Linked DNA regions of Homo sapiens. The protein of the gene in region 1 interacts with the protein of each later gene in a pairwise test. Each region holds a gene or a part of one and is shown on either strand. Other genes may lie near its edges. The genes, in order: BEND7, ZCCHC10, NUTF2 and BANF2.

What was found.
Region 2: the proteins of BEND7 (region 1) and ZCCHC10 interact in binary tests that used the Homo sapiens proteins (3 or more experiments, as listed by UniProt).
Region 3: the proteins of BEND7 (region 1) and NUTF2 interact in binary tests that used the Homo sapiens proteins (3 or more experiments, as listed by UniProt).
Region 4: the proteins of BEND7 (region 1) and BANF2 interact in binary tests that used the Homo sapiens proteins (3 or more experiments, as listed by UniProt).

What each region holds. Positions count from the first base shown.
Region 1 is NC_000010.11:13,497,994-13,505,026, forward strand, and holds part of BEND7 (BEN domain-containing protein 7), read right to left. Parts: intron 5,601-7,033; exon of another isoform or gene 4,868-5,600; intron 2,687-4,867; exon of another isoform or gene 2,517-2,686; intron 2,088-2,516; coding exon 1,785-2,087; coding exon of another isoform or gene 1,746-1,784; intron 1-1,745.
Region 2 is NC_000005.10:132,996,485-133,002,582, forward strand, and holds the end of ZCCHC10 (zinc finger CCHC domain-containing protein 10), read right to left. Parts: intron 3,936-6,098; exon of another isoform or gene 3,912-3,935; intron 3,718-3,911; coding exon of another isoform or gene 3,690-3,717; coding exon 3,648-3,689; intron 2,367-3,647; coding exon 2,099-2,366; 3' UTR 501-2,098; downstream 1-500.
Region 3 is NC_000016.10:67,842,882-67,849,965, reverse strand, and holds the start of NUTF2 (nuclear transport factor 2), read right to left. Parts: upstream 3,034-7,084; 5' UTR 2,981-3,033; intron 2,775-2,980; exon of another isoform or gene 2,273-2,774; intron 1-2,272. Other genes in the region: THAP11 (THAP domain-containing protein 11), read right to left, coding at 6,467-7,084. UniProt on the Homo sapiens protein: Mediates the import of GDP-bound RAN from the cytoplasm into the nucleus which is essential for the function of RAN in cargo receptor-mediated nucleocytoplasmic transport.
Region 4 is NC_000020.11:17,730,943-17,736,381, reverse strand, and holds the end of BANF2 (barrier-to-autointegration factor-like protein), read right to left. Parts: intron 718-5,439; coding exon 571-717; 3' UTR 511-570; downstream 1-510. UniProt on the Homo sapiens protein: May play a role in BANF1 regulation and influence tissue-specific roles of BANF1.

The DNA.
Region 1 (7,033 bases):
TGTTACAACTTTAAAATTATAAATAATCCCAATGAAATACCAAAGTAGTCACAGTTATATGTAATATATTTCTTTTTCTTTTTTTTTTTTTTTTTTTTTTGAGACAGGGTCTCGCTCTGCTGCACAGGCTGGAGTGCACTGGTATGATCTTGGTTCACTGCAACCCCTGCCTCCCAGGCTCAAGCGCTTCTCATGCCTCAGCCCCCCAAGTAGCTGGGACTACATGCATGCGCTACCACGCCCGGCTAATTTTTGTATTTTTTAGTAGTGATGGGGTTTCGCCATGTTGGCCAGGCTGGTCTCGAACTCCTGGCCTCAAGCAATCCACTCATCTCGGCCTCCCAAAGCGTTAGGACTACAGGCACGAGCCACCACGCCTAGCCATATTTCTATTGAAAACATAAAATATCTATTTTCAAACTGATATGGGGGAATTTATGTTTGTAACTTTTACTAACTTCATACTTTTCAAAGTAAATCCACTGTCCCTACTGTATACTGGGAAACAGAACACTGTTCACCCAAAACTTACTGATGTGGGGTTTATTAACTTCATACATACCTAAGGGTATTTTATTTCTCTTATTGTCTCTTCCATGGTAGTAGAGTTAGAAAGGTCTTAAAGAATATTTCTAGTCACTATTCTAAGTACCATCTTTTATCATTTTTAGAAGACAAAACCAACCCTTTTCAGCTTGTTATAAATCATTTTCTAATTTTAAAGAGAACTGACTTTTTATTTTTATGGAGGAGTCTTTAAAGAGCTGTGTCCCTCTAACCTGGAGGCATGCCAGCATTGGAACTTTGATACTGGCTTATGTACTACTGAGAGGCAGAGAAGACACCCATACATTTCTGGGGTCCTTCGCTGTCTCATCAATGTCTCAGGATGGCTTTTCATGCCTCTGAACCACAAATTGTGTTTTTAAAAAAAGTCAAAACAGTTCTCTTTTTCTTGAAGGATATTGTGAAATGAAAATGAATGGAAAAAAATCCTTAACTTCTTAAGGAAACTGAAAATGCTTTCTTACCTTTTTCTTGTTCTCTTTGTGAAAACTATAGATCTGCACATCTCTACAGAGTTTATAGAACAAATATTATAGCATCCAGTGTGGCCGGATAGAAAACTAATATGACCACAAAAAGCATCAGGTTTTTCTCCTTAAGCTTTGAAAAAAAATTGTCATTTGATTCTTTTCTTAACAATTAGGAAACTTAAATTAAGAAAATTTTACTTTAAAGGAATACTTTCCATTGCTAATGAAGCATGTTACAAAATATGGATCACTGGGTTCAGTACTGACGTGGGATGCTGGGTTATCGGCCCCCCACCCCTGTCCGCCCCCGCCTTTATCTGGGACTCTTCTGATAATGAGTAAGGTGAAGGAGTAACCAAGAGGATATGTTAGTAACACACCATAGGACCAGGAAGCTTCTTTTAAAGACAGTGGGGAGCTCTTTCTGCCCTAATGTTCAGGTTTTTTTTGTGACAATAATATCCATACATGGGCACAAAATGATCGCTTTAACCTCTTAAAGGGCTAAAATCTCTACCAGGAAATCTTCACTTATAACATAGAACCCCCTGTCTTTCCTAATTCTCAATTCTGTTTTTTAATAGTCTTCAACTCTTTCCTTTGTGTCTCCCTGTCTTTTAAAGTAACTCAGCAAAGGCAGGTAATTATGGGAGGGTTTAATAAATTGAACTCAACACACTGAATATTTAGAAATAGAACAGTACAAACCCCCATGAGAGCCTTCTGAATGTTTGTTGACAACCATACCATTGGAGCTCGTGGTAGGGTGGGGCTGGCTTTGGAAGGTTCTAGAACGGGTGCCATACTGCCCTGAGAACTGTCCACTCTGGGGCGGTAGCTCATTCCACACACCACGTGAAGACGGGTGGAGGCTTTGCGGGGCCTCAGCAGAGGAGTTCAAACGTGGAGGCCAGACTAAATCCAGGTCCTGGGGCTCTTCTTTTAGTTTCTCTCCTTCTTTGCCAACTCGCTGATAGATCCGCCCAGTGCTGTCGTTCAGCAATCTTCTCATCCCTGTAATTTGCTTTTTTATTTCCATGCTTTCATCTCCTAATGGAAACAGGGCCAAAGTTAGCACTCTAAATTAGTGAAAGAGAAAACAGTTCACTAACCAAAAAGAAGAGAAAGAAAAACAACCCTTCTTTGGAAATGGGAAAGATGACTGACTCTATGAACTTAATCTGTAAAACGCAAAGGCAGGAAAACTGACTACGGTCTGAAAAAACCCATCCTATTCCTGGTGCCTCTCATTTTAATCTCTTTCTGCAAGTCGCTTATGATGAAAGAGGTTTCTTGAGAGTGTGTCATCAGGAACAAACATGACATTCCCTCTTTGGAAGCATTTTCTGAATGAGTAGGTGATGAGGAAACAGGCTGAGACAGAAGGTCAAGGATAGAACTGGACCGCGGAACCCCTCTGCTCTGATGGGCCACAGCCACCCGTGAGGAATGGGCAGGTCACTAAAGCGCTCTGCTCACTGTCTGTCAGCTTCACCAGGCGGGGCAAGGACAAGGAAGAAAGCCTGGACTGGCAGGGACGCAGGGCTTCACTACTGACACAATGTCCTTCAGGATGACTGGCAGGGATGCAGGGCTTCACTGCTGACACAATGTCCTCCAGGATGACACGCTGCCGCTGGAGACATCACCTTCAGAGAGGACGGCCGAGGAGACAGAGAGGCGCCGAGTGTGGCAGCATGGCAAGCGAGGGGGTTTTGTCTTTCTGGCACTCTGACTCCCATCACATCAGCCTGGTGATGACCGAGGGGTCCCTGCCACTCGAGGTCACTGGCGGTACCAGCACTGGAAGGGCGGAAGTGCAACCTCCCCACCGTGCCCTCCTCCCATGCCAAACGCACTGCCACCTCCCCTGCAGCGTAACTGTGTGCGAAAGGTCACAGGCCACTTTGAAATCCCACTTCACCTACACTGACTTCTTTTTTTAAGATTTTTCTCCCGTCTCAGGACATTTTTTTAAAATGAAAGAACTTCTATACTGCACTGGGAGTACTTAATAAATATTAAAGATGTCTGTAATATTGCACAGATAGAAAATCTTTTTGGCCGGGCACAGTGGCTCACGCCTGTAATCCCAGCACTTTGGGAGGCCGAGGCGGGTAGATCACCTGAGGTCGGGAGTTCGAGACCAGCCTGACCAACATGGAGAAACCCTGTCTCTACTGAAAATACAAAATTAGCCAGGCGTGGTGGCACATGCCTGTAATCCCAGCTACTCACAAGGCTGAGCCAGGAGAACCCGGCTCACCCAGGAGGTAGAAGTTGTGGTGAGCCAAGATGGCACCATTGCATTCCAGCCTAGGCAACAAGAGTGAAACTCCATCTCAAAAAAAAAAAAAAAAAAAAAGAAAAAGAAAATATTTTCTATCAATAATAATATCAGAGGATGCTGATATCTGTTAGGAGCTATTTCAAACACACTATCTTCTTAAACTGTGCATCAGCCAGTATCTTCATAAAGATGAAGAGAAATGAATTTTTTTTTCTCAAACCCAAAAGATAAAATCTTAGGCCACTGTTGGGCATGGTGGCTCACACGTGTAATCCCAGCCCTTCGGGAGGCTGAGATGGGAGGGTCATTTGAGCTCAGGAGTTTGCGACCAGCCTGGGCAATATGGAGAAACCCCGTCTCTACAAAAAGTACAAAAGTTAGCCCAGCATGGTGGTGTGTGCCTGTGGTCCCAGCTACTTGGAGGCTGAGGTGGAAGGACTGCTTGAGCCCCGGAGGCAGAGGTTGCAGCGAGCCGAGATTGTGCCACTGCACTTCAGCCTGGGTGATAGTGGCAGACCCTGTCTCAAAAAAAAAAAAAATCTTAGGCCAGGGTATGTGTGTGTAAACATTCATGCAGTTACTCTAATAAATGCTTGAAATTTAAACTGTAAGATAAAGAAAAGGCTAACAGACAGCATCTGTTAAGAAAAATACAGCTCCTACAAATACACACAGCACATTCAATATAATGATTGCACTTAGGATCAATTATAATGATCAATATATGTATATATAAGGATATGTATATATATATATGGATCAACATAATGATTGCACTTAGGATAAGCCAGGTTTCTCTGTAGAACTGGTAACTGCACAATAACCTAGCCGTTTTGTGCTTTCCAGTTAGATATTTAGCTTATTAATATATGTGTTATGTTACTAAATAAGGAAGTTTATTTTGAATTTACTGTTCACTATTTTGAAGTAAATATCTTTAGTTTTTAAAAATGATACTAAAAACATTACAGAATATATTAATTCTGTCTAATTGAACATGAGTGAACACGGAAATAACACAGATTTCCAAATTTACAATATTGCTATGTGTTGTTGGCATATGCTTGAGAGGAGAAATATTCTAATTTGAGATAAAACTATTTCTACTTCAAACCCCTGTGAAAATTACAATATATAAACAATAAATCATATTCCAGATTTTATGAGAATGAACGACCAAGCGAGATTTCAATAACGCAGAGTCAGCAAAATTTACTACTTTCTCGAGAGGCTACGGAACAGGGTGTGTCTGGAAGAGGTCCCAAAGGAATCCTGAAAGATAAGCCCACAGGCAAATGCGGTATTAATTTCAGCAACCAGACACATACGTTCCCGGCTAGTTAACACCACAATTCAAGCAAGAGGAGGCATCTTTTCTGTGTGGTTTCCACCCACAGCCCTCCCCATCAGGCCGGGTATGCCTGCACTGAAGTCCATGCAGAGACTAGCCTTCTCTGGCACAGGTTGGTGGCCGCCACCCCTGACCCCAGGCTCCCTGAACAGAGCAGCCATAGCCAGGCCACATGGGGCAGATACCCACCCCGGCTCTCAAGTCCATGCCAGCTTGCTTCTCTACACTAACTGACACATCACAGGAGAAGGGATGTGTCTCCTGCCAAAGGTCCTGCCTCTGCTCTGTAGATATAATGCTAGGATAGATACAGTGCTACCATTAGCAACAGGAAGGCGTCACAAGGATTCTGGAACCTTCTGAGGGCAAATCTGCTTTGTCATGACCTCAGTTTCAGAGTTCCAGAACTTATGCCTATGAAAAGTACATGGCTGAAAATACAACCTGAGTTTTGCATAACTTTGTATTTTCATTTTGACAACCAGCATCCTAAGCTGCAGGTGGCAATGAGGGAGGAAGGTGGCAGGTGTGAGGGGTTCTGGCGGTGGGCTGCGCCTGCCGTGTGCAGAAACATGTCTCCCAAAGGCAAAACAAAACGAAACAAATACACAAAAAATCAGGACGTCGGGGGACTGAGGAGGAAGAAACAGTGCTGAAAGGAAGAGGGCAGAAGGCCAGAAGCAGGTCCCTCCTCAGAGGAAGTAAGCTCACGGCCTAGCTCACTGTGGCATGTTTTAAAGGATGGAACACATCCTTTAAAGGATGGCACAGTGGCTCACACCTGTAATCCCAGCACTTTGGGAGGCTGACGTGGGTGGATCACCCGAGATCTGGAATTTGAGACCAGCCTGGCCAACATGGTGAAAGCCTGTCTCTACTAAAAACACAAAAGTTAGCTGGGCGTGGCAGCGCGCGCCTGTAGTTCCAGCTACTCGGAGGCTGAGGCAGGAGAATCACTTGAACCTGGGAGGCGGAGGTTGCAGTGAGCCAAGGTTGTGCCACTGCACTCCAGCCTGGGCAACAGGGTGAGACTCCATCTCAAAACAAACAAACAAACAAACAAACAACAACTAAAAGGATGGAACACAGAAAACTGCAGTAACTGCAGAAGTCTGTGCTGAGAGGAGAGCTGAGAGGTGAGCTGAGAGTCGGCAGGGAAGGTTGAAGAAGGGCAGAGTGTGGAAAGTTTCTTAGGGGAGATGACGGGACGTTCAGGAATGGTCTCTGGGGTTTACTGAGTCACACTCTCTTCACCCAAAGCAGCAGAAGCAGCTGAGCAGGTCACCCCTGCAGCTGCTGCCTAGGAGGAGGGAGTCCTGGGGCTCTACTCCACAGCAGGGAATGATGAGTGACAGGCTTTGGCAGACAGGAAGAAAGAGGTTTCCTTGCACATTTGGGGCAGGTGGGGCAGAGGATCAGAAACGAGGCCTGAAGACTCCAAGTGACAATGACAAAGAAGCTGAGTCAACCTAAATAATCTGGGGACAGTGGGTGCTGGGAGCAGATGAGCAGGCCGAGCCGTAGAAGCTCGTTGAGTGTGGTGCAGTGTTAGTGTGGGACAGGACAGGCTGGGCTATTACACCCACACCTGGTCTCGCCTCCTAACTACGCCCACCTGCTACTGGATACTAGCCAAGCCACTGAATATTCTCTGGTTTCCTAAATCCTAAAGCAAGAGTCTGAACCCTAACCCGGGGAGGGGCACATGGTAGTCCAGGAGGGGCACAGGATTTTCACCATCACCAAGGTGTTAACCAAGCACTTTGTGGCTCTAGAAGTCCTTTTCGGAAGACAGGCTTCTTCTATCATAGTGGAATCCAAGTTCTTTGATAAAAAAAAAAATTGGTGAAAAGTATACAGGAGATTGAGATTGGAAGCATTCACTGACTTCTACTGGTATTTCCAGTTATCATTAGTCAATGACTTCTCCAGGTATAGATACCAGGAAAAGGAAGCTCTTTGGAGCAACGAGCTCTCTAGCGAGACAGGATGCTATAAGGAAACCTGTGCATTTTTCCTGATCTCTTTCCAAGACGCTGAATCCTTTTCAGAAAAACAAACACAAAGGAATCTTACTAAAATGGATCCATGCCACGTGACTACCTTATTGGCAGCCTGAAATCCTTTGGAGTTTAGTAACTATACTCCTTGGACAAGATCTAAAAAGATTGTATGCTGGATTCTCCCCCTCACTAAATTTCAAGACTCTACTAGATCACGTTCCTTTACGCAAAGAATTTATGACACATAGTCTTGCAGGATCTGATACATGTGAGGGCAACACAGAAGTCAACACACAAGGTTGCCCTTAACTTGGCTAGGAGGGAAGGATCCACTACGTGGAACACGATTATT
Region 2 (6,098 bases), on another chromosome or scaffold:
TAGAAGTTAGTCTCCACTTTGCCATTGATTCTGTTTTTTGTTTTTTCTCACTCTGTCACCCAGGCTGTAGTGCAGTGGCACACTCATGGCTCAGTGCAGCCTCAACCTCCTGGGCTCAATCTATTCTCTTGCCACAGCCTCCTGAGTAGCTGGGACTATAGGGGCACATCACCATGCCCAGCTAATTTTTTAATTTTTTGTAGAGACAGAGTCTTACTATGTTGTCTAGGCTGGTCTCATATTCCTGGACTCAAGTGATTCTCCCGTCTTGGCTTCCCAAAATGTTGGGATTACAGGCATGAGCCACTGTGACCAGCCTGATTCTGTCATTTTGAATGAAATGTGTGACTAGAAGAACTGAGTTCCTGCTCTCTGTACCTCTGCAGTCATACTTTTAACAGCCATAATAGTAAAACTTTAAAATTGGAATTTGTTCAAATGTCTTTACACCTCAAATGGAATAACTGACATTAAATAAAACACTAAAGAGATAACAGAAGTTTAAGCTTGTGAGCACAAATTGTGAGTTTTATTTAACTGCAAGTGATGCAACCTATGTAACACATTCTTTTCTCATCCGTGTTCTTTAACTGCTAATATTACCTTTACAGAGACAAACATTATAAAATGTGCCTGATTGGTAATTTATTAACTCTATCTGTCAAGTGATAATATTCTGTAGGCAGCCTTTGAAATGATGTTTTGAGAATTTATTTACAACCATTGAACACAGATGGTTTTGTAAAACTGACAATTACAGGCTCCTTAAACTCACAACATACATATATTTCAATATTTAAATAGCCTGTTTTCTTCAAAAGTAATTTTCTACTGCTTTTTCATAAAAATATAAAAAAGACAACATTTATAGTTTTAAAAACCTATATTTAACCCAAATCAAATTTTTTCTACAAATGATACCTCTTTCCAAAAAGTTAAAAAGACATCACAGAATACTGTGATGTTAAACCAAAGACTCATCACAATAACAGCATTTTACTTTTAAGAAATATTGTGCAGTATCTCCTTTTTAACCTTTCATGCTAGATTTCAACTATGTATATCCTATGTAAACACACCAGATTAATCCTAGTCATTCATATATATGCAGTAGACTGTCATATATGACCAGTTACCATACAAACTATAATACCATATTTTCAAAAATAGCAAAAAGCAATCTTTATGAAAGCTTAAAAAAAGCTTTTAATAAAAGGCGACCAACATTGCCCTAATTTTCAGTAAAAATTACCTCTTCTTCCTACCTTTCCCCCTGCTTTGAATGGTACCTTTTATTGCATGTTAATACACAAAGATATTTCTAGCACTTCTATTTAAGTTAGCCTCTTACATGGCTGCTTTCTTTTCTGATACACTGACTTTTAACAGAAGGCACCAAGATTAGACTCCTAAGAAGTTTCAATTTTTTTGTCCCTTTTTAGGTTCCTCTAGAATAATTTTCCTCAGAAAAGGATAACTTGAAAAACTTAAGGAACCAGAAGAAAATGAATGACGTAACACAGCAATTTGAAACTTACAGCATTCAAAAACTATAAATATATTAATAGGCTCCTTGAACATACCACTTAGGACAAAAAGTCAGATAACTTTCTGAACATAAATGTAAAAATAGAGCACATTTATTAATAGTAGGAAAACTCCTAAGCTTACAGTAACAACATATTAAATCTTACATAACATACAGCCAAAAGCATTAGAAATCCACTGCCAGATATCCTGACGCACCATCCTGAAAATATGTCTGATACATACCACTAACATATATAACAAAGTATGGCATTTATTTCACAGAGAGAAAAGATAGTTTCATCACACAAACAGATTTGCAGATTTCAGCTTTAAGTTCTAGAGATATATTTTAAAGATAAAAAAAACAAGATTCACCCTTCAAATAAAAGTCTCTCTCTATAAGCCATTATTAATATTCTCTATGCTCTTACAATGTAAAACATTTAGAAACTTTTGAATTCTAGAAATGTTCACCAGTTAACCTACTTGGCCTTAACATATTCTAAATTCCCTTTCAAGAATCACATCAATGTTTTCAGTCCATCAGTCCAATATGAATGGAGCAACTCTATTTCTTTTTCTTCTTCTTTGGTGGTTCATCGTCAGAGCTGCTATCTGTGCTGGTGCTACTGCTACTGGAAGAGCTGGAATCTGAGTCTGAATCAGAGGAGGAGGAAGAGGTTGTGGAGGAGGCTGAGGATGAGGAACTAGAGGAGCTTTCATCAGTGTCACTGTCCTCTGAGGAGGAAGAGGTAGATGTTTCTTCACTCTCTGATGAAGAATCACTGGCAGAACTGTCACTGCTACTGCTACTGGAACTGGTTACACTCTTAGACCTATTAGACAATACAGAGTTATATACATGGGAAGGTGACATGTAATAGAATGTTAAAAGCAATTTCATTTTTTTTTTCTTTTCGAGACAGAGTCTTGCTCTGTTGCCCAGTGTGGAGTGCAGTGGCACAATCTCAGCTCACTGCAACCTCTGCCTCCCAGGTTCAAGAAATTCTCTTGCCTCAGCCTTCCAAGTAGCCAGGATTACAGGTGCGCACACCGACGCCCAGATGATTTTTGTATTTTTAGTAGAGACGGGGTTTCATCATGTTCACCATGTTGGCCAGGCTGGTCTCGAACTCCTGACCTCATGATCTGCCCGCCTCAGCCTCCCAAAGTGCTAGGATTACAGGCGTGAGCCACCGCGCCCAGCCAAAAGCGATTTCATATGATTCCATATATATGCTTATATATTGAAGCTTTGCTAGCATGTTATCCTTAGGTTTGATATTTTGGAGATTGCCTGTTGTAAACCACAGTCCCTCTCTTTACAAGGCATTGTTACTTCAGCAACTTAATTCTCTTGGATGGAATTCAAGATAAGCATATCTACTATATTACATTTCAGAGGGAATAATGTCAGAATAAAGCTGCAGTATAACAATTGGGTCTATTTAAACCTCACGTAGCTTAGCTGGTGACTGTTTCATCATCTTTATTTTAACTACTTCAGACCAGATATGGCTGGCCAACAATTTCTTACCAGTCTATTAACACTTCCTATTCTAAGCCAAGAGAAGACAATTATTTATTGTTTCCACGTACAAGGACTCTAGAAAGTTGGAGTAAAAGGAGAAATGGAAGCAATGCATTTCCAGACAGGTTAAAAAAAGGAACTTATCAGAAAATAGGATGATTATTTAATTATAAATTGCAGTAAGAGGCTTCAGATCCAAATCTTATAGCTATTTTTTTTTGAGACAGAGTTTCGCTCTGTTGCCCAGGCTGGAGTGTAATGGCATGATCTTGGCTCATGGCAACCTCTGCCTCCCAGGTTCAAGCAATTCTCCTGCCTCAGCCTCTCAAGTAGCTGGGATTACAGGCATGTGCCACCACACCCAGCTAATTTTTCTATTTTTAGTAGAGACACGGTTTCACCATGTTGGACAGGCTGGTCTCCAACTCCTGACCTCAGGTGATCCACCCACCTTGGCCTCCCAAAGTGCTGGGATTATAGGCATGAGCCACTGCATCTGGCATAGCTATTGTTTTAAAATCACCTTTCCCATCCCGCCAATTAGTATTACATGTTATCTATAAAACACTGCTAAAACCACACATACCTTTTTTTCTTGGCCTTTCTTTCTACATTGGTTTCTCCAATGCTGATAAACACGAGGGGGAAAAAAGCTCCTGTTAATAGAGTGATTATACACAGCTCAGACAAGCCCTTCTACTATCCCCCAAATCATTTTACTCTGGAGAAAGATTCTGTGTTTTTATCACATACAGAGTACAGTATTTCTTATTATAAGCAAGTGGAAAGTCTGCCATTGTAGGCTGTATACGGTACATGCAGTCAACTTAACCAGCATTTAAGCAAGACAATGCATCTTAGCACGTGTATAAAAGTCAGGTAGGTTAGTAGTTAAGATGATTAAATTTTTTTAGTCTGGAACTTAGGCTGATATAGCTGTATCACTACCTCCTGAACAACAGAACAAAGCTAATAGCACAATAGCCCTAATTTGTAGTTTGAGTTCTCAGAATCATACAAATAGCCATTTCATAATTTTTCAAAAGCAGCCCTTTAATTTAAAATAACTATTTCTTTTTCTGCATGTCCCGTTATTTACTTTTTTTTTTTTTTTTTTGAGACAAAGTCTTGTTCTGCTGTCCAGGCTGGTGCAGTGGCGCGATCTTGGCTCACTGCAACCTCCGCCTCCTGGGTTCAAGGAATTCTTCTGCCTCAGCCTCCTGAGTAGCTGGGACTACAGGTGTGTGTCACCAAGCCCGGCTAATTTTTACATTTTTAGTAGAGACAGGGTTTTATCATACTGGCCAGGCTGGTCTCAAACTCCTGACCTCATGATCCGCCCACCTTGGCCTCCCAAAGTCCTGGGGATTACAGGTGTGAGCCACCCTGCCTGGCCGAGTTATTTACTCTTTAAAGACCAGAAATGTAATACTTCAAAACTATGCTCACTCACATTAGTTATAAAGTCTGGTAAATTTGAATGAAAGGGACAAATAGCTTGCTGCTATTATTCTGTCAAACAACATGCATACTAAATCAGGTTTTTAAATTACACAATTAGGCCAGGTGCGGTGGCTCACACCTGTAATCCCAGCAGTTTGGGAGGCCGAGGCAGGCAGATCATTTGAGGTCAGGAGTTCGAGACCAGCCTGGCCAACATGGTGAAACCCTGTCTCTACTAAAAAAAACACAAAAATTAGCCAGGCTTGGTGGTGCATGCCTGTACTCCCAGCTACCCAGGAGACTGAGGCAGGAGAATCTCTTGAACCTGGGAGGCAGAGGTTGCAGTGAGCTGAGATCGCACCATTGCACTCCAGTTTGGGCGACAGAGCAAGACTCTGTCTCAAAATAAAAACAACAACAACAACAACAACAAGAAAAAAACAATTAATTCTATCACCACTGTCCTGTAAATTTAACTTTTTTTTTTCTTTTTGAGATAGGGTCTCACTGTTACCCAGGCTGGAGTGCAGTGGCATGATCTTGGCTTACCGCAACCTCTGCCTCCCAGCCTCAAGCAATCCTCCCACCTCAACCTCTGGAGTAGCTGGGACTACAACACGCACCACCATGCCTAACTTTTGTATTTTTTGTAGAGACGGGGTTTGACCATGTTGCCCAGCCTGGTCCTGAACTCCTAAGCTCAAGCAATCTGCTCACCTCAGCTTCCCAAAGTGTTGGGATTACAAGTGTGAGCCACCACACATGGCCAATGTTTTTATATCCTGGCCTTCTCTATATTTCCTAGATAATGCTTCCATCATTGTTTCCTGAGTCTCCAAACATAAACATGTATTTATGTAAAGTTTTTTACACAATGGAATTACTTACTGAATTGTCATTTTGGGCATAAAATAAGAGGGTGAAGTATACTTATTAAATTATAACTGAATCAAAATTCAGCAATCTTTTTTTTTTTTTTTTTTTTTTTTTTTGAGATGGAGTCTCCCTCTGTCGCCCAGGCAGGAGTGCAGTGCTGGATCTCGGCTCACTGCAAGCTCCACCTCCCGGGTTCATGCCATTTCCTGCCTCAGCCTCCCGAGTAGCTGGGACTACAGGTGCCCGCCACTATGTCTGGCTAATTTTTTTGTATTTTTAGTAGAGACAGGGTTTCACCATGTTAGCCAGGATGGTCTCGATCTCCTGATCTTGTGATCCACCCGCCTCAGCCTCCCAAAATGCTGGGATTGCAGGTGTGAGCCAAGGTTCCTGGCCAGCAATCTTTTTTAACAGAGCCAGATTCATGTAATTATATATATTTTTAGACCAAAATACTTGTGAGATACAATTAGAAAAACAAAAGTAAATGTCAAAATAAAATTTTATTTATGTATTTATTTTTTGTAGAGGTGAGACTTGCTATGTTGCCCAGGCTGGTCTCAAACTCCTGTCCTCAAGTGATCCTCCCACCTTAGCTTCCCAAAGTGCTAGGATTATAGGTGTGCGCCTAAACTAGAATGAAAATTTTCATAACCCGTATTTCATTCTTTAGGACAGGGGTCTTCAAACATTTTTTTGCTTACATTCCTAATAAAAT
Region 3 (7,084 bases), on another chromosome or scaffold:
AAAAATAAGGCCGGACGTGGTGGCTCACGCCTGGAATCCCGGCACTTTGGGAGGCCGAGACGGGCGGATCACGAGGTCAGGAGATCGAGACCATCCTGGCTAACACGGTGAAACCCCGTCTCTACTAAAAATACAAAAAGTTAGCTGGGCGTGGTGGTGGGCGCCTGTAGTCCCAGCTACTCGGGAGGCTGAGGCAGGAGAATGCTGTGAACCCGGGAGGCGGAGCTTGCAATGAGCAGAGATCGCACCACTGCACTCCAGCCTGGGTGACAGAGTGAGACTCCGTCTCAAAATAAATAAATAGATAAAAATAAAAATAAAATTAGGCCGGGATCAGTGGCTCATGCCTGTAATCCCAGCACTTTGGGGAGGCCAAGGCAGGTAGACCACCTGAGGTCAGGAGTTTGACCAGCCTGACAAATATGGTGAAACCCCTTCTCTACTAAAAATACAGAAATTAGCCAGGCATGGTGGCGTGCGCCTGTAGTCCCAGCTACCAGGGAGGCTGAGGCAGGAGAATCGTTTGAACCCAGGAGGCGGAGGTTGCAGTGAGCCGACATCGCACCACAGCACTCCAGCCTGGGTGACAGAGAGAGACTCCGTCTCGAGAGAAAAACAAAAACTCTCCTGGTCAAGTCACCCAGGGCCATGAAATACGCAAACTACGCCATAGCCGTAAGCCAGCTCACCTGAAATCTGTGTCCTAGAAAGTACCCACGCAGACAATCTACAGGGTCTTGAAATAACTGCTTCTAGTTCTAGATTTCACCTCATTGTCCTGTGGGTAGTCCCTCCTTATTGCCCAGCTCCACTGGCAAAGTTGGCCTCTCCTGAGCCTCTTGGATGAACCTGATTTCCATGTCCTCATGGGCCAGGATATGGACTAGGAAAGTTACATCCAGAGAGAAGGCAGGGCTTGGTAAAATCTGAGCAGCATTCTTGCCTATTCTTCCTGACCAGGGAGAATAACTAGGCAGAGCAATTCATATGCAAGAAAACTTCTAGGTCAAGAGTACTTGGAAGAAGTGACCAGAAATGAACAGAAAAACATTACCTGGGAAAATATTCAAGGAGGAAGAAAAAAATATGCAGGGTCAGTGGCTTTCTTCACCTTGGGTCTCAATCAGCCCTTCTAAGAGACCTGATATTCTGCTTGCTCCTGAGGCCAGAGCTGCAGAGATTGAGCTGCTGCTGCTTTTTTTTTTTTTCTTTTTCTTTTTTTTTGAGACAGAGTCTTGCTCTGTCGCCCAGGCTGGAGTGCAGTGGCATGATCTCTGCCCACTGCAACCTCTGCCTCCCGGATTCAAGCGATTCTCCTGCCTCAGCCTCCCAAGTAGCTGGGATTACAGGTGCACGCCACCACACCCAGCTTTTTTTATTTTGGAGACAGAGTCTTGCCCTGTCACCCAGGCTGGAGTACAGTGGCATGATCTCAGTTCACTGCGACCTCCACCTCCCGGGTTCAAGCAATTCTCCTGCCTCAGTCTCCTGAGTAGCTAGGATTACAGAAGTGCACCTCCACGTTCAGCTAATTTTTGTATTTTTAGTAGAGATGCGCTTTTGCCATGTTGGCCATGCTAGTCTGGAACCCCGGACCTCAGGTGATCCGCTGGCCTTGGCCTCCCAAAGTGCTGGGATTGCAGGCGTGAGCCACCGCGCCAGGCCTGAGCTACTTCTTTAGTCTCTGGAAAGACTGCGGCTCAGAGAAATCAACGCTTTACATGCCATCTCTCCCCTAGTCCCAAGGTCTTCTCTGGACTGGTTCCTTAATTTACCATCTCTCAATCAGAAGCGCCTTTACAAAGGATATCAGGATAGTATTTTTTGGTCAAAGATAACTCTTCCCCCAGAACTCAGTAGGGTCTCTGATGGCATCAGTAAGGGCAATTTCATAAAGCAACCAGGTTCCTGCCTGTTTACAGGCAGCTCCAGTTGTTGGGAAGTGAGCAAGCAAGTGAGGGGAAGCCAGACTTTCTGGAGCTTCCAGCCCTAGTTCTGCCACCCAGGCTTCGGGAGGGCCCCACAAAGTCTGAAATCTACGTGCCCCACCCCCCAAAGCCCCTTCCAGCCCAGGTTCTGGTTTAGCACTAGGCTCAAGAACCTCAGGCCTGAATTCTACTTCCCGTGCATTAAGTCCCACCTTAACATCCCATTCTTATGAAGTCATCCTGTCCTGCGGGGCAATTCTGTGTTGCTGCTGGGGCCTGGTCACTGATAGAGAAGGGCGTGGGCTGGGCCTACCCGGCAGGAGCCGCCTCACCCCATCAGGCCCAGATCCTCTAAGACAAGACAGGGATAAAGTCTCCCGTGGAATCCCCTCCCGCCTCATATTCCCTGACCCTGCCCTCCCTGCGAGAACTCCAGTCCGGGCTCCACAAAGGGCGCGGTAAGAAACGTACACTTCCGAGGGGCAGACAAGGAGGGGGCGTTCACCTACACCCCGGCCGGGCTATGGTCGGGAACAGGGTGAGGGGCCCAAGCCCCGGCTGCGGCAGGCGGGCGCCCTTACCCATGCTGACTCTGGAGCGGGCCGGGTGGCGCTGCCCATCCCCGGATCCTTCGTAGGTGGGTAGCAGGACGTGGGGCTGGGGTCTGCCCGCTAGCCAGCCTGCAGAGCTTGCGGGGCTCGCGCAGGCCGGGCCAGGCTAGACGGGGCGGGGCCCTAAGGCCCCATCCGGACGGTCCTGACTAGAGAAAAAGGCCTGGCCATGGCGCAGGCCGGTGCACCAGCCACCAGCACGGTACGGCCCAGATAGGCGCCCGGCTGGCTCTCTGTGCGTTACCCCCGGCCGCCGCCTCACAGGACCGGCGGGAGGCGGAGCCGCGCGCGACACATGGCCCGGGCCCCGCGCGGCTTCGGGCCGCCGGGGGGGGGGGAGGGGAGGGGCCGCCCGGGGACTCTCAGCGGAGCCTCCCGGCAGCCCAGAGAGCGGCTCCTGCGGCCCAGCCCCCGCCCCGGCGTGCTGGCCCCGACACTCACCCGAGGGGCTGGCACGATGGCGGCAGCGGCAGCGGCAACCCAGCGCGGTCTGCGGCCGACTGTCCCTTCCCCCCTGCCTTCCTTCGCCCGCCCCGCTGCACTCTGGGAGACGCAGTCCCACCGCCCCCCCTTTCCGGCATGAGCGCGCCGAGAGAAAACTACAATTCCCGGCGTGCTATGCGCGGAGGCCCAGACACGGCCCGCAGCGCGGGAGGTGAGGCTAAGCCAGGGAGGGAGGCTGCCGGGGCAAGCCCCTGAGAATTGTGGTCTAGCGGAAGCCTCTGGAACACTAGAGGTTGGCGCCAGGCTAGGGTCAGGGCTCAGTTGTCTCCTGGTCTCAGCTGGCTCGGCCCCGCCCAGTCTGTGCACTGGGGTGGGGGTTGGCCCCGCCTCCGTGGGAGCCCAGCCCGGCCCCAAGCTGGCCCAGCTGCCCCTCCCTGGGCCCCTGGGCCGTTTCCGCTCACGAAACCCCCTCCCCTTGGGGCTATGGCTGCCGCTGTTACTCTTCCGAGCTGTGTGGCCTTAACCAGCCCGGGCGGAACGCACAGCTCCTGCAATCCCAACATTCGTGCGCCTGCACCTCGGCGAGTCGGGCCCAAAGCTGGTTTCGAGCAGGCTAGGCTATTCTTGGGCCGGAGACTCAAATGTCCCTCAGGTGGGGCTTGGTTGGAGAGGTTACCCTCAAACTTCTACAGTCAGGGGTCCCCCCAAAACATTCTGTAAGGTTTTTTTGCAGCAGATAGAGCAGCTAAGTGTTTCATTTTTATTAATGAGGAAAGAGAAATGACTGACTTACCCAAAATTTCGCTGTGATTTAAGTGACCAGATTGTAAATAGTTCTCTTCCTACCCATTGCCCTTTCCTTTCAACGCCCATTTGTTTTCTTGGTAACACAAACATTTGTGGTAAGGCCAGTCTCTAGGTCAGACCTGTGCTTGGCAAAGAGATCTGCAGCCAACTTGGGGTACCACAGGTAAGGGAAATGGCTACAAGGCCTCTCCAGGCAACTCCTAGCCTTCCTTCCTGGCCGGAGGTCTCTCAGTACTCCTGTTCTTCCACAAGAGTTTTGCACCTTCCCCCACCCACAGGCTACCCCTCCAAGAGATGGCTGGTAAGACCGGACCACACTTCTGTTTTTTAAATCTCAGGTCTGTCAACACTACACTTTGCCTGACTAGATGCTTATTACTCAGCTAGTGAGAACTCTGCATTGCCCCGCTTATACATCTGCATCTGGGATCTCCCTTGCTCTGTGAACTGTCTTCTTCTCCCTAAGAAGCCAAAACACTGCCCATAACCTCCAGACACCAGGGAGGGTCCAGGGAGTACTGCTGAGAGCCTCAAGGGAGCCAATGCAGAAACAGCAGAAGTCCCTTCAATAAATAGGAGCTCAAGGATACACTGAAGAGCATGGCTGGATCCTGGAAAAGGCCTTGCTCCGACCGGGAAGATGTGAGACTGGCCCAATAGGAGCAACAAAGGGCACTGCAGTGCTTCCACCACCTGATTACCAGCCAGATCTAACCCTAGGAAGACAGAGGTCCAGTCCATCCCCCAACCAGCCACCTACACAACCTATGTCTCACTCCTTCCCCACCACTTTCCCAACTCAGTGCTAAGGGACTAGAAGGGAAACAGAGACTTGAGTTTTAGGACCATCCCAGCATGTTGCCACAGACAAGTCCCCAGGCAGATGGCTTTGTCCATAAGTAAGAAAGAGAAGGGAGTCATATTTTATGGGGTCTGAAAGTCTCCGTTTGTGCCCCACCACCCACAGTAAACCCAGAGCTTTAAAGGCATTTACTTTTAGACATTGGCTTTGAGCTAAATTACTTGGAGCTATAGACAAAAGCAATGTAATCCTTGCCCCTTCAATATTCAATCTAAGAAAAAATAGAGGCTGGGCGGGGTAGCTCACACCTGTAATCTCAGTACTTTGGGAGGCAGAGCAGGCGGATCACCTGAGATCAGGAGCTCGAGACCAGCCTGGCCAACATGGTGAAATCCTGTCTCTACTGAAAATACAAAAATCAGCCCGACGTGGTGGCGGGTGCCTATAATCCCAGCTACTCAGGAGGGTGAGGCAGAAGAATTGCTTGAACCTGGGAGGCAGAGGTTGCAGTGAGCTGAGATCACACCATTGCACTCCAGCCTGGGTGACAAGAGCAAAGCTCCATCTTAAAAAAAAATAAAAAAAAAAAAATAGAGGCAGGCAGCCAAGAAAATGAGTCAAGGAATCACACCTCCCAACTTCTTAATGCTCTCTGTGGATACAGCTCTGTCACACCGAAGGTGTACCAAGGCCAAGGTATCTATACAACAGTCCTTGTGCCTGAAGCAGCCCTGGCTAGCTCCAGCTGCGCTCTTACCGGTTCACAGAGTAACTGCATGCACATGCATACCAGAGGCTGTGCTAAGCCTAAGGGATGTCATGGTGAGCAAAATTCAATCCCAGCTGAGAATTGAAACCCTCAGAGGCGAACTATCACAATATAGCTTAGTTACCAGTTGGTCCTTCTTGTTGAAAGGATACAGGGAGATAATCCATGGACAAACTGGGCCCATTTGGTGCAGTTTCCAAACTCTTTAGGGTGAGCTGGGCCAGGAACTCTGTGAGGACCTTATAAGGCCAGGATCCATGTGCTTAGGGCCCATTTTTGGAAAAACTGGTCATTGAAGCATCTCTACTTTCAGGGTCAGCCTGGTCTTTCAGAAAGGCTGAGGCCTATTTCCCCATGTTTCAAGGACATTTAACTATGTTTTTGTAAAAATAAAATGGCGAGACCCAAATAAAAACCTTACTTTTTGTTTAATTTGTTTTGCCAAACAAACACAGTGAAAACTTTAGTCTGACTAATTGTACAGAAAATAGAATTTGTAACCAGTAGCAAACAAAACAGGATAAACCTAAGTCCCTGGCAAGCTGGATCTCCATCAGCAGGTCATCCAGATCCCCTTGTAAATGGCCTCCTGGGAAAATAAGTCCTAGGAGGCAGAGGCACAGATTTACCAGTCCCCATCAGAATCACAGGCTGCACCTGGGAAGGAAAAGCATGAAAAGGAGGAGAACTGATGTTACTTGAATCTCTTATCACTACACACATTAGAGTTGTCTGACTGCTGACCAACCTTAAGGTATGGTTTTCCCAAACCTATAGTCCCTGGACATCCCACCTGCATCCCTAGAGGGTAAGTTTCAAGTTCAGTGGTTCTGAAGCCTCTGCTTAACCAGAATCTGCAACAATAACTGGGGAGGAAGGGTAGACAAAGTCATAATTGCTGGTGTCACCAGGGCAGAGTCTAAGGCCCCAGCTTCCACTTCAGGAGGAAACAATTGAGGATGCCAGGTCACCAGCAAGAGAGTCCAGCTGCCTTAAGCCTCAGTACTGTCAACCAGTGCCCAGGAGTATAGAGGAGTTCAACAATGGCCTGCGGTCCCCTGGCTGGATGGGGTCTGGGAGTCCAGCAGGCTGCCGGGGCACCAGTTCACATTCCGTGCTTCTTGCGGATGACAGCCATGGCAAGCAGCCGATCCTTCTCACGCAGTTCTTCGCGCAGCTTGGCCTCAGTGAGACGCAGGTGGCGAATGCTGCCTTTCATCTCTTTCATCTTCACTTCCATCAGAGCCAGGATGTCCCGCTGCTCATTCAGCTTGCGCAGGAGCTCCTCCTCCGTGGTGCCTGACGACAAGGAGTACGAATGGTCGGAGCCAGTATCAGGGAAGCCCTCTTCCCCTACCACCACCAACTGGGGGCCCATAGGGCACTCGGCAGCCTCCAGCCCTGCGGTAGCAGCCTGTAACTCCGACGCGGCGGCCGCAGCGGCTGCGCCCTCTGCGGCTGCAAACTCCACTTGCACTGTGAGATCGATGGGCTTCACGTCTTCTCCAGTGGGAGTGATGGGCGCCGGCTGTACGGATCCCGGAGCCTGACTGCTGTCTACAGTGGCCTGAAGGGTGAGAAGCACGGCCGCGGAAGCAGATACCAGGTTCGGCTGCAGCTGGGCAGTCTGGGCAGTGGAGGCAGAGGGTGAGGACTGCTGCTGCTGCTGCTGCTGCTGCTGCTGTTGCTGCTGCTGCTGCTGTTGCTGCTGTTGCTGCTGCTG
Region 4 (5,439 bases), on another chromosome or scaffold:
AAGGCCCATGTGGTGAGGAACCAAGATGTCTTGCCAGCAGCCATGTGAGGCAGCCATCTTGGAGGTGGGTCCTCCAGCCCTGGTCCAGCCTTCAGATGACTGCTGCTGGGCCAACAGTGAGTAATCTCATGAGAGACCCTGAGACAGAACCAGCTGGCTAAACAACCCTCAGGTTCCTGACCCTCAGAAACCCTGTGAGGTAGCATCATTGTTTGTTTTGAGAAGCTGCTACATGTTGGGACTATTTGTTATGCAGCAATAGATGACCAATACACTGACTTAAAATTCAATTCCTATTTTTAAATAAAATTATCCATTCTTTCATATAAATTTTTTGCTGAAAGATATTTGACATGATATTCATCTAAGAGGATTGACTATGGTTTCTGGGTGGTGGGTTTGGGAGTCATTTCTCTTGCATTTGTCCTGTTTTATGTTCTTGAACTACTGCTTATAATGGGAGTGTATCATTAAAATTAAAAACACAAATGAGGACTCGGAGCCTGGGCATAGGTGGAGAAGGCGTCATTTTCCCCAGAGGGTGGTGGGGGGCAGCAATGAGGTTTGTGTCTACAGGAAGCAGGCACACCACTCCTTGAGGCAGTGAGAAGTCTGCTGGGCCTCACACTCAGTGGCACCAAAACAGCAAATGAGCCACCTCTGAAACTCGGCTTCATTCTTGTGCATCAGAAGGAATTGTCCCAGCAGGATGTAGGCCTGGGGAGGGGATGAGACAGGGAGGAAAGCAGGAAAGGTTATCATAAGCCAGCTCAGACGCGCTCTTCCTTCCCAGCAACCAGGGCTCACGTGACAATCAAAGGAGGGGGAGCAGGGCCGATTCAAGGGAGCCTGTCAGTCCTTGAAGCCCTGACATGGGTCTTAGCCCTGGTGAGAGCTAAGGCCAAGTTAAATGCCCATCTCTCAGGGCTGGTTTGCGGGCCGTCCACCCTGGAATGAGTCAGACCCTGCCCCCTTCAAACTTTGACAAGCACATGAATCATGTGGGAGCTTGTTAAAATGCGGGTTCTGAAAGTCTAAGTCCAGGGAGAGGCCTGCATTTCTAACATGCTCCCAGCTGCTGCTGGTCCAGGGACAACAGTTTGAGTAGCCGGGGCCTAGCACACTCCTGAAGCTCCCTTCAGACCTCCAGTGAAGCATTTCTCTTGGAAACACACACATAACCCAGACAGAGTAAGAGACATTCCCGCCCCACTACTTCTGCAATTGTTGTAGCATGGGATTTCTTTTCTTTTCTTCTCTTTTCTTTTCTTTCTTTTATTTGTTTATTTATTTTATTTTTTTGGAGACAGAATCTTGCTCTGTCGCCCAGGCCGGAGTGCAATGGCGTGATCTCGGCTCACTGCAACCTCCGCCTCAAGCGATTCTCCTGCCTCAGCTTTCCAAGTAGCTGGGATTACAGGTGCCTGCCACCATGCCTGGCTAATTTTCATATTTTTAGTAGAGACGGGGTTTTGCCATGTTGTCCAGGCTGGTCTCGAACTCCTGATCTCGGGTGATCCACCTGCCTTGGCCTCCCAAAGTGCTGGGATTACAGGGGTAAGCCACTGTGCCCATAGCACGGGGTTTCTAAACCTCGGCACTATTGATATTTTGGACAATGCTTGAAATGTTATGGGGGGCTGTCCTGTGCATTGCAGGATGTTCAGCAGCACCCCTGATCTCTACGCATGCCGGTGGCACCCTCCCTCCCCGACCCAAGTAGCGACAATCATAACCATCCCCAAACATTGCCAAATGTCCCTTGGGGGCAAAATCTCCTTGGGCTGAGAACCACTGCACATGGGGCTGACAGATGAATGGCATCTTAGCATTGATTTGTTTTTGCAAACCACCTGTGTGATCTCAGGCAACTCATGTAACCTGAAGTAAGAACCCACAGAACCTGGATCTCAGTTTCTGCACCTTCCTAATGCACACGGTGTGCTCTGCAAATTAAATTAAGTGAATTAAATGGGAAGGCATTCAAAAAATGTAAATTCCTCTCTCATACTGGGAGCTGTAGTTCTGTAGGAGGAGCATAGAAGGTTTAAAACATGCTAAACCTTGTCCACGTTCCCCTTCCTCAGTCTCTGTGGATAAAAAATACATGGAAGATAAGCACTCAGTGCACTGTGATTTCTATTTTTATGGCATTCTCAAGCTTTCTAGCTATTAATACTTGCCTCGAGGCTTTTAATTCATCTTTTATAGTTTTATTACACCATTATTGACAAGGCACAAGGACCACATGGAGGAAGGGAATTCCCAAGGCCACGTAGCCAGAAACTAGCCAAGCCACTAAATGGTGGAGGCTGGAGAGCTCAGGTCACATTAAACGCCCATCTCTCAGGGCTGGTTTTGGGGGCTCTCCAGCCTGGAACCAACAAGAACCAGCATCCACCCATGCCTCGAGTTCTGGGCCCTTTCCAGGAAAACCTGATGGTGTCTGTTTACTTTTAGTTATGTAAAATAAAGCAAACTTCATCTTAACCAAAGAGAGCATACTTTTTAAGAAGAGAAATCAAATAAAAGCTGAATCCCAGTCATAAAATATACCCAAGCATTGAATTTTGGGGGCTTTATTTTTAGTCATGGTCCAGTTGTTGATAAGAGAAAAAAGCCAGGATTTTGTGGTGATTCTGAACTGCTACTTTAATCTTTTTTAAAAAAAGCAATATAGTTACTTGGCGTGATCTCATTTTACTTTATCAGTATCCTCCCATTTTGAATGGATTTTACTGAGATGTATTTAAATTAATGTTTTTGAAAAATAACATTTATTAAGTGTTAATTGAGCCAGTAGACGTAGGTGTGGGAGGTGCCAAGGTGAAGGTAACAGAAACGAGAGACATAGAGCTGTGTCCAAGGAGAGAGAATATTAATAATAATTAACAATAATTAATAGTAAGTGGCTTACACAAAGCTTTCTCCATAAAGAGAAATGTTCATGATAATACTTAATAATAGTAGTTAATGCTAAGTAGCACTTTTTAGCACTTCTGTCGGCCACGTGCTGCTAGACACCTGACACGTTTTAATCCACCTGATCCTCACATGTACTCACCCCTCCCATTCCCCAGGTGGAGGTACTAAGTCTCCTGTTTTCCTCTGCACTATTCCTGCACTTCCCAACTGTCCACAGTCTGGCCTGGAGGCTAATGCATCCCCTGCCCGTTTTAGAAGTGGCACTGCCAGCATCAGCTGGCCTGTTAGTGAGAGCCTCCACATACCCACAGGCTCAGCAGCCAGGATGCCTGGGAACATGTGGACCCTGGGCAAACTTTCCAGGAATGCTACAGGAAGCCCCGTCTTGCAGCCTCTGGAGCCAAGTGGCAACCTGACACTCCCTCCTCAGTTTTCCCTCCTGTCTCCCTGTGGCATCTTCCAGGAGGGAAAGTTGGCTTCCCTTCTCCCTTCTTCCCTGAGCACTTCACCCTGCTCCCCAGGGAAGCTGGAGTCGTGGGCTCCCATCATGGCCCTGCCAGATGCCCGCTTGGTTTCTCCCCCGGCTCCAGAAAGCCCCCTAATCAAGGAGAAAAGATGCTGCCCCTTTCCCTCCTTGGGCCAGAGCTCCCCAGAATTCAGCTACTGGGGTGGGAGGGGTGACACAGAAACACAGAAACCCTGAGCAGCTGTCCCTGTCCTCCTACCACTCTGGACAGTGGCCGTGGCCATGGCCAAGCCAGGGAATTACATTCCGTCCTGCAGCTGTAAGAGGGGGGGCTCGGCCAGGTGTGGTGGCTCACTCCTGTAATCCCAGCACTTTGGGAGGCTGAGCGGGCAGATCATCTGAGGTCAGGAGTTCGAGACCAGCCTGGCCAACATAGTGAAACCCCATCTCTACTAAAAATACAAAAATTAGCCTGGTATGGTGGCAGCCGCGTGTAATCCCAGCTACTTGGGAGGCTGAGGCAGGAGAACCCAGGAGGTGGAGATTGCATGAGCTGAGATTATGCCACTGCACTCCAGCCTGGGCAACAGAGTGAGACTCTGTCTCGAAACAAACAAACAAAAGGATGGGGGCTCAAGGGCAGAATGCCCCTAAACTCCAAGTGCAAACAGTGAGGTTCCTCCAGGGGCCGGCCCCCAAGCAGGGGAGGAATCACCCTCCAGTTTGCGGTGCCCACTTCTTGCTAAACAGCAGCAGTTTGAGCCTATGCCAGGGTTGGGTTCCCTTGCATCTGAGCCATGTTTTCACACAGCGCCTGGTGCTAAGAGCACCCTGAGCTGGTTTAACACTTGGCTCTTGTCATCTGGAAATTCTTACTAAATTTCTTTTATTTTTTTATTAGTTTTCCTTTTTTTCTTTTTTTTTTTTGACGACGTCTCCCTCTGTTGCCCAGGATGGAGTGCAGTGGCACGGTCTTGGCTCACTGCAACCTCTGCATCCCAGGTTCAAGCGATTCTCCTGCCTCAGCCTCCCGAGTAGGTGGGACTACGGGTGCGTGCCACCACGCTTGGATAATTTTTTGTATTTTCAGTAGAGACAGGGTTTCACCAAGTTAGCCAGGATGGTCTCGATCCCCTGACCTCGTGATCTGCCCGCCTCGGCCTCCCAAAGTGCTGGGATTACAGGAGTGAGCCATCACGCCTGGCCTACTTTTTTTTTTTTTTTTTTTTTTCCTAAGAGACGGGATCTCATTCCGTCACACAGGCTAGAGTTCAGTAGCATGCAGTAGCTCTTGGCAACCATAAATTCCTGGGCTCAAATGATCCTCCCACCTCAGCCTCCCGAGTAGCTGGAACTACAAGCACGTGCCACTACACCCCCTAATAAATTTGAACTAGAGGTCTTGCATTTTCATTTTACAGTGGGCCCTAAAAATTAAATAGCTGGCTGAGATCCACACTTATTAAAATGCTCAGTACTCACCATAATGCTGGGCCTTGTCAAGCAGAGATAAGCTGTCTCTGCCCTCTCTTGTTCTCTAGCTGCTTACAATGCCCTCTGCCCAAGTCCGCAGGTCCTGAGCACCTGTGCTGAACGGACTTCAATCACCACCAGACTCCATGGTGCAGTGACACAACTTTCTTTGATTCTCTCTCGCCAGTCGCCTAAGTCTTCATGTCATTTCAGGTTTAAACTCTTGTGTGTTTTTTTTTCTTCTTCTTTTATTTTGAGACAGAGTCTCACTCTATAGCCCAGGTTGGAGTGCAGTGGCACGATAGCGGCTCACTGCAACCTCCACCTTCCAGGTTCAAGTGATTCTCCTGCCTCAGCCTCCCAAGTAGCTGGGATTACAGGCATGCACCACCATGCGTGGCTAATTTTGTATTTTCTATACAGACGGGATTTCACCATGTTGGCCAGGCTGGTCTTGAACTCCTGACCTCAAGTGATCTTCCCAAAGTTCTGGGATTACAGGCAGGAGCTACCACGCCCGGCTTAAACTCTGTGTCTTTGGTGTGAATCCTCACTTCAGGGAATGTTTACCCCTT